3 linked regions of the Homo sapiens genome follow. The protein of the gene in region 1 interacts with the protein of each later gene in a biochemical or structural test. Each region holds a gene or a part of one and is shown in the gene's direction. Other genes may lie near its edges.

Region 1 (3,750 bases):
CAGTTGTTGACAGGCCTAGCCAGGCCACAGGTTCGTTCCTGCATCTCTCCCTAGACACCCATCTTCTAGGTCAGAGCTGGAGAGGACTCAAGAGACTATCCGTTTTACAGGCCTGAGACCCAGCGTCTGGAGAGACTGTGCTCAGGCACTCTCTGGGCCTGGACAGCTGCCCTGGGCCTACCAACCTGGAACCTGCCCTGATGCAAGTCTCCCTGGACAAGACCTAGATGCCACTGTCCCTGGCTCCACATTCTGTGCCAACTCTCCTCTATTCAAATTTCCTTCCTTTGCCTCATGCTGCTACCATATCCTATACCCGGGCCTTCTTCCGCCTTCTGGAAGTTCCCATTTGCCCAGGAAGTTGTGTCCTCCTCTTAATGTCTTCTACCTGCCACTTCCCTGAGCCAGTGGTCTCACTGCTTTGCTTGCCAGTTACCAGGTCCCTGCCCCCTAGGTGCACCCTCTCCCATCACCGTCCTCCCCACCCCACTTCCCATAGAGCGCTCTCATGGGTCCTCTGTTGCTGCCCTGCGACTTCTGGCACAACCTTCATTCCTCTCCTCTCCCAGGTTTTGGTTCCTTTGTGGACAAAACGGTGCTGCCCTTTGTGAGCACAGTACCCTCCAAACTGCGCCACCCCTGCCCCACCCGGCTGGAGCGCTGCCAGTCACCATTCAGCTTTCACCATGTGCTGTCCCTGACGGGGGACGCACAAGCCTTCGAGCGGGAGGTGGGGCGCCAGAGTGTGTCCGGCAATCTGGACTCGCCTGAAGGTGGCTTCGATGCCATTCTGCAGGCTGCACTCTGCCAGGTGAGGAGGTGGGGCGGGGATCTGAGCCTGGAGGTCTGTTTGGGAACAGGACTGCCCCTTATGGTTGTGTAGTGCACAGTTCTAGGGGGTGCCATTCATACCATAGTTGCTGTAGTTTGTATATTTAGCAATTACCTGGTGGGTTGGAGTAAAATATCTTGAGGAGGAGGCATGTTTTTCGAATTCACAAGTAAGCCTCCACTAGCAGCAGCCTTCTTTAGGGGGCTGGAGAGAGCAGGGAGAAGCAAGGTACTGGAGGCAAGGGGATGGACAAGCTGACTCAGAGTGAGGCTGGCCACATTCTTGGCTCACAGAGCTGGCTGGGGTGGCTCAAGGGCCATGCCCAGGTGCATAGCCTACCACCCCCACTGTAACTCAGGAGCAGATTGGCTGGAGAAATGTGTCCCGGCTGCTGGTGTTCACTTCAGACGACACATTCCATACAGCTGGGGACGGGAAGTTGGGCGGCATTTTCATGCCCAGTGATGGGCACTGCCACTTGGACAGCAATGGCCTCTACAGTCGCAGCACAGAGTTTGTGAGTCCCTATTGTCACCCTGCCTCTCCCCATTTCAGCCACACCTCTTTCCTTCCAGGACTCCCACTCCCAGCCTTACAGTCCTCACCAGTAACCACCCTGTAGACACCCTGCCATCTTCTCCAGCAGTTCCTCCTTTCAGCTGCCGAGACAGGACACCTTTGTCACCCCATTCCCTACCTCCTTCCTATTCCATAGCAAGCCTCCAGGGCTCCTCCAGCTGGTGGAACCTTGGTTCCTGGATTCCCTGGGCTGAGGGCACCTTGCATGTTGTGGGGGAAACCTGTGGGGCTCACCTTGTCCCTGCTCCCTGTCCCAGGACTACCCTTCTGTGGGTCAGGTAGCCCAGGCCCTCTCTGCAGCAAATATCCAGCCCATCTTTGCTGTCACCAGTGCCGCACTGCCTGTCTACCAGGTGAGAGCTGTCTACATGTCAGATCCCCCAGCCCCATCCCAACCTTTCTCAATTCCCCCAAAGATACATTCTCCGTCCCCCATATGCCCTCCTTCCAGACCTCCGGGAGCCCATTTTCCTAGAGCTGTGACCCACCATTTCCCTTAACTCCCCAAAACTCAGGAGCTGAGTAAACTGATTCCTAAGTCTGCAGTTGGGGAGCTGAGTGAGGACTCCAGCAACGTGGTACAGCTCATCATGGATGCTTATAATGTGAGGGGCCAGGGGAAGGGGAGATGGTGAGGGTGGGCACTAGGGAAAGGTGGAAAGGGGCCCTTGGGTGGGGTGGCAGAACTAAGAGGAAATGGTCACTTTTTGGTCTAACATTCCACAGCTCCTACCTATAGTCTGCATGTGGCTGTCATTAACTGTTCAATCTTACATTCATAAATCTTAAAACATCTGACATGCAGACAGCATGGAGCTCTGCTCTGGGCAAGAAAGGAAAGTTTCAATCACTGAGCTTTTATTTCATGCGCCCACCATCCTAGGTGTACATACTGTTTGCTACTTCATTTAACCCTGCCAAAAGCCTTGCTTCATAACTGTTACCATCCCTATTTTACAGATGAGGAAACCCACACAAGGAGGCTAAGTGACTTGTCCAAGGTCACAAAGATAACAAACAGAAGGGCTGGCATTTGTCCCCAGTCAGTCTGTACATAAACAATGTGAGATCTGGAGCCTGCTTTCACTAAGTTTATAAATAATTCAGAGCTATTCTTCACAAGAACCATAGAATTTTACAGGTAGAAGGAACCATAAAAATTCTTAGTGGTTTAGGTCTTACCTCTGCAACTAGGCTGTAGGCTTCTTGATAACAGGGAGCATCTCCTAAACCTATGGCAAGAAAATCTGAGACAGTATCAAATTTCCCAAGATAAACTCTGTAATGAATCTGCCCTTTAGACCTGGCATGCACCCAGGTTATGTGTCCTGATGTGGGGCTTCACAAACATGGTCTCTGTACATTTACAGCACCTGGCCAGCCTGTGACCCTCAGTGGCCCTTGCTGGCAGCTGCACTGAAATGCTGTATTAGAGGCCTCTGGATCCTGTATGTTCTATGCAAGGTTCTCACGGGTCCTCCCTCCAGAAATGCCTCGACTGGGCAGAATGGAAGGAGCCCCAGGTGGCAGAGGGCAGGGTGCTGGCAGAATTGGGAACACCTGGAGAGGACATAAGGTGGGGTTGGAGTCCTTTTCTGCCTTCACGTGGTTATCCACTCGCTCTCTTCCCATAGAGCCTGTCTTCCACCGTGACCCTTGAACACTCTTCACTCCCTCCTGGGGTCCACATTTCTTACGAATCCCAGTGTGAGGGTCCTGAGAAGAGGGAGGGTAAGGCTGAGGATCGAGGACAGTGCAACCACGTCCGAATCAACCAGACGGTGAGAGCCAGCAAGCACAGGCAGAAGGCGGGCAGGGGGAGGTGGGAGTGGGAAATTAAGCAGGCAGGAAAAGATGGGTGGCAGGTACAGGGAGTGACATGAGAGCCTGAGGTAGTCCTCCATCCATCCTTCCTGGAGCAGTCTGAGTGGCTTCCTCAGGCATGTTTCTAGGAGTTGGGTGTTAACATGACCCCATCCCTTCATTTACTAAGGGGTGAGGTTCTGGATGATTGGTGAGTTTGGGGTATGTGTGTGTGCATGTGTATAACCATGGCCTGATTCCTGCCTCTTCTCAGGTGACTTTCTGGGTTTCTCTCCAAGCCACCCACTGCCTCCCAGAGCCCCATCTCCTGAGGCTCCGGGCCCTTGGCTTCTCAGAGGAGCTGATTGTGGAGTTGCACACGCTGTGTGACTGTAATTGCAGTGACACCCAGCCCCAGGCTCCCCACTGCAGTGATGGCCAGGGACACCTACAATGTGGTGTATGCAGGTGAGGGCCTCCTCTTCCCTTCAACCACCTGGCTCCCAACAACCAACCAACCCTGGCCCGTATTCCTC
Region 2 (3,750 bases), on another chromosome or scaffold:
CAACCTCCGCCTCCCGGGTTCAAGTGATTCACCAGCCTCAGCCTCCTGAGTAGCTGGGATTACGGGCATGTGCCACCACGCTCAGCTAATTTTTGTATTTTTGGTAGAGACAGGGTTTCACCATATTGGCCAGGATGGTCTTGATCTCTTGACCTCATGATCCGCATGCCTTGGCCTCCCAAAATGCTGGGATTACAGGCGTGAGCCACCGTGCCCGGCCTAATATTTATTTTTTAATAGAGATGGGGTTTTGCTATGTTGCCTAGGCAATTGAATGGATGAAATATAAGTTTAAAAGATTGGAAATCGAAACGACTATTACTGCAATATTTAATATGCTCTGTGTATTATGTAAAACATTCAGCTTTATAATGGCTTCTTTAAGCTCACAGGAGGTATTTTAAGGCAGTAGTTTCTGTAGTATATTTAAGATAGGATTGCGATTAAAATATGTTTAAAAGTTGGAGAGAGTATGTTTTCTATACTTGAGATGAAATTTACTGTATTTTTATTTTCATTAGGTTACCTTGTATGAATGTCATTCACAAGGAGAAATCCGGTTGTTGCAATCTTACGTGGATGCTGATGTATCCTTTCCTGGGTTTTTAATATCTTTAGTCAAAGGAATTTATTTTCAATAAGTGCACCAAAACTTTTATAAATTAATCATTTCCCTAAAGTTATTGTTCTTTCTTAACCGATTTCTTCACTATCACCCAAGAGAATCCTGTATCTAGTTTTCCTGACCCTTAGAAATCCATTGTGGTATGTGTCAACTCAGCTAGGCAAAAAGAAAAAGAAAAGAATCCATTGTGGGATGGATGTGCTGGTTGGGTGCAGATGTCTATAGAGATAGGAGCATTAGAAATCTAGTAATAGAAAATATTAGCAAAGACTGATTAAAACCTCCTTTTTCTTTGACCTTGCCTAGAATATATCATTTCATTGTAGTTATAATGATGAACTTGGCTTGTGACTGGTAGTCATTCTAAGTATTTGATCAACGAAGCCTAGGAAGAAAAAAAAAGTTTAGGAAAAATAAAATATATAAAAATAAAATAAAATAGGAAATAAAAATTGCAAAACAGGTTCATAAAGAAACAGAAAAATTTGAAAAGCCCGAGTTAGAGCGGTAAAAGCTAAGTAATAAGATATTTCTTCCAGATCCATTTGAAAAACCTAGCAAACAAGACAAGGCAAGGACATTCAGTCTTCTCTAAAAGATATTGAAATGTGACCTGTTGTTGTATTGAGACTGTCTCACAAAGAAAAAAGTGGAAAACTGAATTGTTCTTTTTTAGATATTTATAGAGGTATGGGGATAGAGCAGAGGTTAAACTACAGCGTGCAGGTTGGTCACCTGTTTTTGTAAAGTTTTGTTTTGAACACAACCATGCCCATTCATTTGTATATTTTCTGCAGTTATTTTGGTACTGCAACTACAGAGTTGAGTAGTTGTACAAGCAGCTAAAGAGTAAACAAAATTGAGTGGAGAGACTGTAATTTTGTTTGATCATTTGTTATGGATTTTAGACCTCAAATCACCATTGTATATATTTGGTTGTATAAGGAAAATTGAGAACTTTGGTGTCAAAAACTTTAGCAGTTCTTTATAAGTTTCTATTATAATTATTGACATGTTTCTTTTTCAAAAACATTATGTTTCTTAACTGTGGAATTTCTTAGGCTGATGAAAACTTTTACACTTGTGCATGGACCTATGATAGCAATACGAGCCATCCTCTGCTGGCTGTAGCTGGATCTAGAGGCATAATTAGGATAATAAATCCTATAACAATGCAGTGTATAAAGGTGGGTTTTTCTGGTTAAATTGTAGATCTGCTTCTTTTGAATCCACAACTGTAAAAACTTGTAATGTTAAATTTAAAACTAATGGTATGAATGTAACATTTCTCATTTGATTTGTACTTTTCTTACTGCTCTCTTTGGATGAGTCTTTTGAGACGTTTGTCACATTTGGGTAATGTAAATTAAGGAATAAGTGGGAAAATGTTAATATTTGTAGTGCTTTCTTTTTAAATCATTTCCCTCTTTCACCCTTGTCATGGTTTACTTTGAGAGGCTCTAAATGAACAATAAGAGGGAGTCCATTTTCCAAGACACCTAAACTGGAGGGGTGTTATCAAAGGGACCTTGTAACGAACATAAAGGTGAAGCCTAGGAAGTTGATAAGAAGACGGGTTTTTCAAATCACTTTCATCACCTGTTTTTAACTGTTGGGCTACATCACACTCTCCTGAGGATGCTTAAAACCCTACGCATATTGGAGCCTCCGCTAATCCGATCAGAATATCTGCAGGTGGAGTTTTGAGCATCTTTTTTTTTTTTTGTTCTGAGACAGATTCTGACTCCTTTGCCCGGGCTGGAATGTAGTAGCATGATTATAGCTCACTGCAGCCCGTCTCCTGGGCTCAAGCGATCCTCCTGCCTCAGCCTCTCAAGTAGCTGGGGCCAATTTTTAATTTGTGTGTGTGTGTGTGTGTGTGTGTGTGTGTGTATGAAGATAGGGTCTTGCTGCATTGCTCTGACTGGTCTTGAACTCCTGACCTCAAGCGATTCTGCCTTAGCTTTCCAAAGTGCTTGGATTAAAAACATGAGCCACCCACTGTGCCTGGGGTCTTTTTTTTTTTTTTTTTTCCTTTTCACCTCAAGTTTGTTGGGTGATTTTAGTATGCAGCCAAGGTTGAGAACCACTACTTTAAGTGAAACTATTTTTACATTCTCTAAAGATTTATGAAAAAAAATTTACTGATTTTGAGATAGGAAACTTGAAATGTTTTAAATTTATTGTAGCACTATGTTGGCCATGGAAATGCTATCAATGAGCTGAAATTCCATCCAAGAGATCCAAATCTTCTCCTGTCAGTAAGTAAAGGTAAGTGAAGCAAATGTTTCTTGAGTCTGTGCAATTTGTCAGAATTAAGATGGAGTCACTAATGTCAAGAAAACCCTGACAAATAGGAAAAACCATGAGAAGAGAGTCCACATGCTTGTATGTCTGATAATAAAAACTCACAAAAAAACACAACCACAACCTTGCACAAAGGCCATCACAGCCTTACACAGAAAATACTGGCAGTAAGTGCCTCTCCATCCTGAGACTGGCATCACCCTTGTTACTGATTTTGTGGCCAATCTTATTTCAAAACAATTATGTAATCCTTCTCATTTTTTTCTTTAAAAACCTCTGTCTTTCCTTTACGTCTCGGAGAACACACATAGTTTACTTTGGCATGTACATTCTCATTGCAGTGCATTATTTCCATATAAACATCTTTTATTTTAGAGAGCCTCTCTGTTACTTAGGTTGACAGGTCCTGTTTTATTTTAAGTCTAGTATCTGTTAGTTATTTTTCCTGATCTTCTTACTCCTCCCACCCTCTACCCTCCAGTAGGCCCCAGTGTATGGACAGATAGTGTTCTAAGGAAATAAAGCCAAATTAAAAAAAAGGTTATAACAGTACATTTTAGTAGGAAAATCCCAGGCTATGTTAGCATATCCAAATCATTTTGTCCAATCATGTAATAATAAATACTACATATGAAAATTCATATTGCTTTTTTATTTTTTAAAAAAGCTTTTGTTTTATAAAGGATTTCCTATAGAATTTCTTAAAAATGCTACGTTTTTCAGGATAAGTTATTTGAAATATTCCCATAAAGGGAAAGCATTGCATTTTGGAAATCACTACCTCTAGGAAGAGTTGATTACTTTTTCTTGTCTCTTGA
Region 3 (3,750 bases), on another chromosome or scaffold:
TCTGATTATAGCTCCAGCTGTTTATAGTGGTTGGTTACCTTTGGGTATGGTATGGGGTGAGGGATTTTTACTTCTTATTTTACATACTTTTTTTTTTTGAGACAGAGTCTCACTCTGTCGCCCAGGCTGGAGGTTGGAGTGCAGTGGCATGATCTAAGCTCACTGCAACCTCTGTATTCTGGGTTCAAGCGGTTCTCCTGCCTCAGCTTCCCAAGTAGCTGGGATTACAGGTGCCCACCACCACGCCCGGCTAATTTTTGTATTTTTAGTAGAGACGGGGTTTCAACATGTTGGCCAGGCTGGTCTTGAACTCCTGACCTCAGGTGATCCACCCATCTCAGCCTCCCAAAGTGCTGGAATTACAGGCTCGAGCCACCACGCCCAGTGTCATACTTTTATATTACAGGTTGAGTATGCCTGATCTGACATGCTTTGGACCAGAAGTGTTTCAGATTTCTAATTTTTTTGGATTTTGGAATATTTGCATATGCATAACGAAATAGCTTGGGGATGGGAACCCAAGTCTAAAAATGAAATTGATTTTTTCTTATATATCTTATACATATAGCCTCAAGGTAATTTTATACAATAATTTAAATAATTGTGTGCATGAAACAAAGTTTTGATTACAACCTGTCATGTGGAGTCAGGTGTGGAATTTACAGCCTGTGCTGTTATGTTGGTGCTCAAACATTTAGGATTTTGGAGCATTTCAGATTTCAGGTTTTTGGATTAGGGCTGCTCACCTGTATTTGACTTCTTATTTTATAATGAGTATAGGTTACTTCTGTGTCTTACAAAATAATAAAAGAAAATTCAAAATTAAAGTGATACATGTTCATTATAAAGAAAACTCTAGAAAAGAGAATTTAGAAATTTACACAGTGGAGACATTGGCACTGGGTAGGTGGGACAAAGAGGAGGGGCAGAAGGACAGTTCACGTGGGAGGAACAGCAGAGACAAAGGGGGTTTCATGGACAAGAAGGGAGCGAGCGGCCTGTCTGGGGTGTGTAGAAGGGGAATCGTGGATCTGAGAGACCTTAGAGACCAGCTCGTCCAACCAGCTCCCTCCCCTTATGAGGAAACAAGAGAGGGCGAGTGGCTCCCCCAAGAGCACACAGCAAATTAGTGGCAAAGCTGGGATAGAGCCAGGCCATGGCTGCCTGGATGGTTGCCATCTGCCCCAGCACCCTGCCTCAGGGATGAGAGATGGGGCCACCGAGAGGCTTCTTCCTTCATTCACTCAACAAACGTTTGCACTTTGCCTAGGTCACCAGGGAAACACTGCAAAGGCCCAGACGTGGGCCTGGCCATCATGCTATTGGTGTTGTAGAGGGGAGACAGACAGACAGACGGCTTTACAGATGGGCTGGTCGGTGTGATGATGGCTCAGGTCAAGGGACCCAGGCTCAGCGGGTCTAGACAGGCCCCCCAGAGGCAGGGACATTTCAGCTTAGGCCTGGTGGACGCATAAAAATATCACCCAAGGGTGTCACTGGAGTGAAGGGCGGAGACCAGAGCGGGTGGGCAGGGTGTCTGGTGCCCAGTCTGGCAGGAGGGTGGAGAGCAGGATGTGCAGGAACTTGTAGGCCATGTGACGATGCCGACCTCTTCACCAACAGCCAGAGGAGCTGGCAGGGGGTTAGGAAAGGAATGACAGGGTCAGACAGATCCTCTAGGACAGGGGTGTCCAATCTTTTGGCTTCCCTGGGCCACATGGAAGAAAAATTATCTTGGGCCACACGTAAAATACACTAACACTAACGATAGCTGATGAGCTAAAACACAAAAACATCTCATAATGTTTCAAAAAAGTTTATGAATTTGTGTTGGGCCACATTCAGAGCCATCCTGGGGCTCACGCACCCATGGGCCATGGGTTAGACAAGCTTGTTCTAGGAGGATCACCTGGCTGCTGGGTAGAGAGCGGCCAGGGGACTAGCCATCCTGCTGGTAAGAAGGAGGGACAGGTTCAGGGTGTGAGGAAGAGTTAGGGGGCAGATTAGCCTGCTTGGTGAGGGATACAGAATAGGGAGTGGGGAGGCAGGAGTCTAGGATGATGCTGGGGCTCCTTGGTGGGTGGGGTGTCCAGTGGGAGACCAGAGGGCGGTGGGCAGGGTGTGAAAATCATGTGGGAACCTGCTGAATTTGAGACTGGGGATCATTGGAGGACCCAATTGGAGGAATCATACAGTCAGTCGGTTTTGGGTCTGGAGCTCAGAGGAGAGGATAGGGCTGGGGCCAAAGACCCTGGGAGTCTGAGTTTGGAGGGATGGCCACTGAAGCCTCAGAGAGGACATCACTGTCCAGGGAGACTGAGCAGAGGGCAGGAAGATGGCTGGCCGGTGGCCTGTTCAGCCAACCATGTTTCGGTGGAGGTGGGGAGGTGCTGCTGGAGCTGCCTCATGCCCAGGACCGCCTTGGCCTGGCTCCTGATGGACCTTGGATGTGGAGGCAGAGAGTGTTGACTTGCCTCACACAGTCCGGCAGTGGCCAGGGCAGAATTTCAACCCCAGCTCGCTGATGGCAGAGCTTTAAAGTTCGTCTCTGGATTGCTGGAAATGGGCCACAACACACTTCTAGCTTGGGGCCCCCATGGTTCCCACAAATTGGGTCACAGCCACCATCCACACGTAGTTCTTAATCATTCTATGATGCCATCTTTGTTCCCTGGCCCCACTCTTGTATTCATTCCAAAATAGCAGGAGCGTCTCTGGGTGCTTTGCCTTGTTCCGCCACTGGAGATGCCAGTGGAGAGCTCATGGCTCCTGCTGTCATGTTGCTTGCAGTGCCTCTTTAATAGGCACTGATTTAGCACCTATGGTGTGCAGGGTTTTGGGCTTTGTGCATAGATTGGAGCAAAGGTGGGGAGTCAGTGCCCAGGTGAGTATGATGACCCTGCCCTCAGGAAACTTGCAGCTCTGGGGAGGGCAGGCAGCCCAGCAGCAGACGGGGAGCCCATGCTAGGCTGGCATGACCCAAGATGAAAGTCTGTGAAGGACAGCAAAGGAGAAAAGAGCGCCCCAGATTCTACCCCATCTCACAACTCTGTGTCCATGTGAGTGTTTCTTCCTGTGTGCAATATCATCCTGGGGAGACCACTGGATCATATATGCTGTCTTTTTGCTCATTTTATTAGTTGTCACCTTAATACACAGACTTTATAATGTTGATTCCAAAAGACTGCATCACATTTCATCTGCTGATGGCCACGATGGAACCAGCCCCCTGGTGCTGGGTGACGCAGGTGTTTTCAGTTGTTTGCTGTGATGAGGAATGAACATCCTGTGTGTAACAGTTCTTCTCCAAACAATGTGGGATTGTTTCCTCGAAGCAGTTTCCCAAAAGTCGAACAACTGGATCCCAGAGTTCTTGCAATGTATCAGCATGAAGATGTTTAAACAGATCAAACATGTTATAACCGCAAGTGGGGTTGTCCCTCGGGGCTCATTTCTTTGGTTGGATTCAGTTTTCGTTGGAGATGACCTCCGTATGGAGGTGGTCAGGAAGGGAATTCTGACCCAAAGAACAAACCCAGCCCAACCCCATGTTCACCCAGAGCCAGGTGGTGGGGGTAGAGCGAGGGCCTGAGAGGGATGCTGGGTCTGGCTCATCCCCACCCCACCGTTTCAGCCAGCACCGTCTTCCCAGAGGACCTGACATCCTAGCCCAGACTCTGGTGTAGGTGGGGACACAGGAAGTTGATTGGAAAAGTGGACTAACTTAGAGATTTCCAAGGCAAAAATCCA

Evidence for each region.
Region 2: the proteins of ITGB7 (region 1) and EED form a complex in vitro, tested with the Homo sapiens proteins (one study listed by BioGRID).
Region 3: the proteins of ITGB7 (region 1) and MAPK8IP1 form a complex in vitro, tested with the Homo sapiens proteins (one study listed by IntAct).

Annotation. Positions count from the first base shown.
Region 1 is NC_000012.12:53,193,640-53,197,389, reverse strand, and holds part of ITGB7 (integrin beta-7 isoform a precursor), read left to right. Parts: intron 1-569; coding exon 570-811; intron 812-1,190; coding exon 1,191-1,349; intron 1,350-1,668; coding exon 1,669-1,764; intron 1,765-1,926; coding exon 1,927-2,016; intron 2,017-2,247; exon of another isoform or gene 2,248-3,045; coding exon 3,046-3,192; exon of another isoform or gene 3,193-3,488; coding exon 3,489-3,682; exon of another isoform or gene 3,683-3,750. UniProt on the Homo sapiens protein: Integrin ITGA4/ITGB7 (alpha-4/beta-7) (Peyer patches-specific homing receptor LPAM-1) is an adhesion molecule that mediates lymphocyte migration and homing to gut-associated lymphoid tissue (GALT).
Region 2 is NC_000011.10:86,254,701-86,258,450, forward strand, and holds part of EED (polycomb protein EED), read left to right. Parts: intron 1-521; coding exon 522-587; intron 588-1,686; coding exon 1,687-1,812; intron 1,813-2,814; coding exon 2,815-2,896; intron 2,897-3,750. UniProt on the Homo sapiens protein: Polycomb group (PcG) protein. Component of the PRC2/EED-EZH2 complex, which methylates 'Lys-9' and 'Lys-27' of histone H3, leading to transcriptional repression of the affected target gene.
Region 3 is NC_000011.10:45,888,613-45,892,362, forward strand, and holds part of MAPK8IP1 (C-Jun-amino-terminal kinase-interacting protein 1), read left to right. Parts: intron 1-3,750. UniProt on the Homo sapiens protein: The JNK-interacting protein (JIP) group of scaffold proteins selectively mediates JNK signaling by aggregating specific components of the MAPK cascade to form a functional JNK signaling module. Required for JNK activation in response to excitotoxic stress.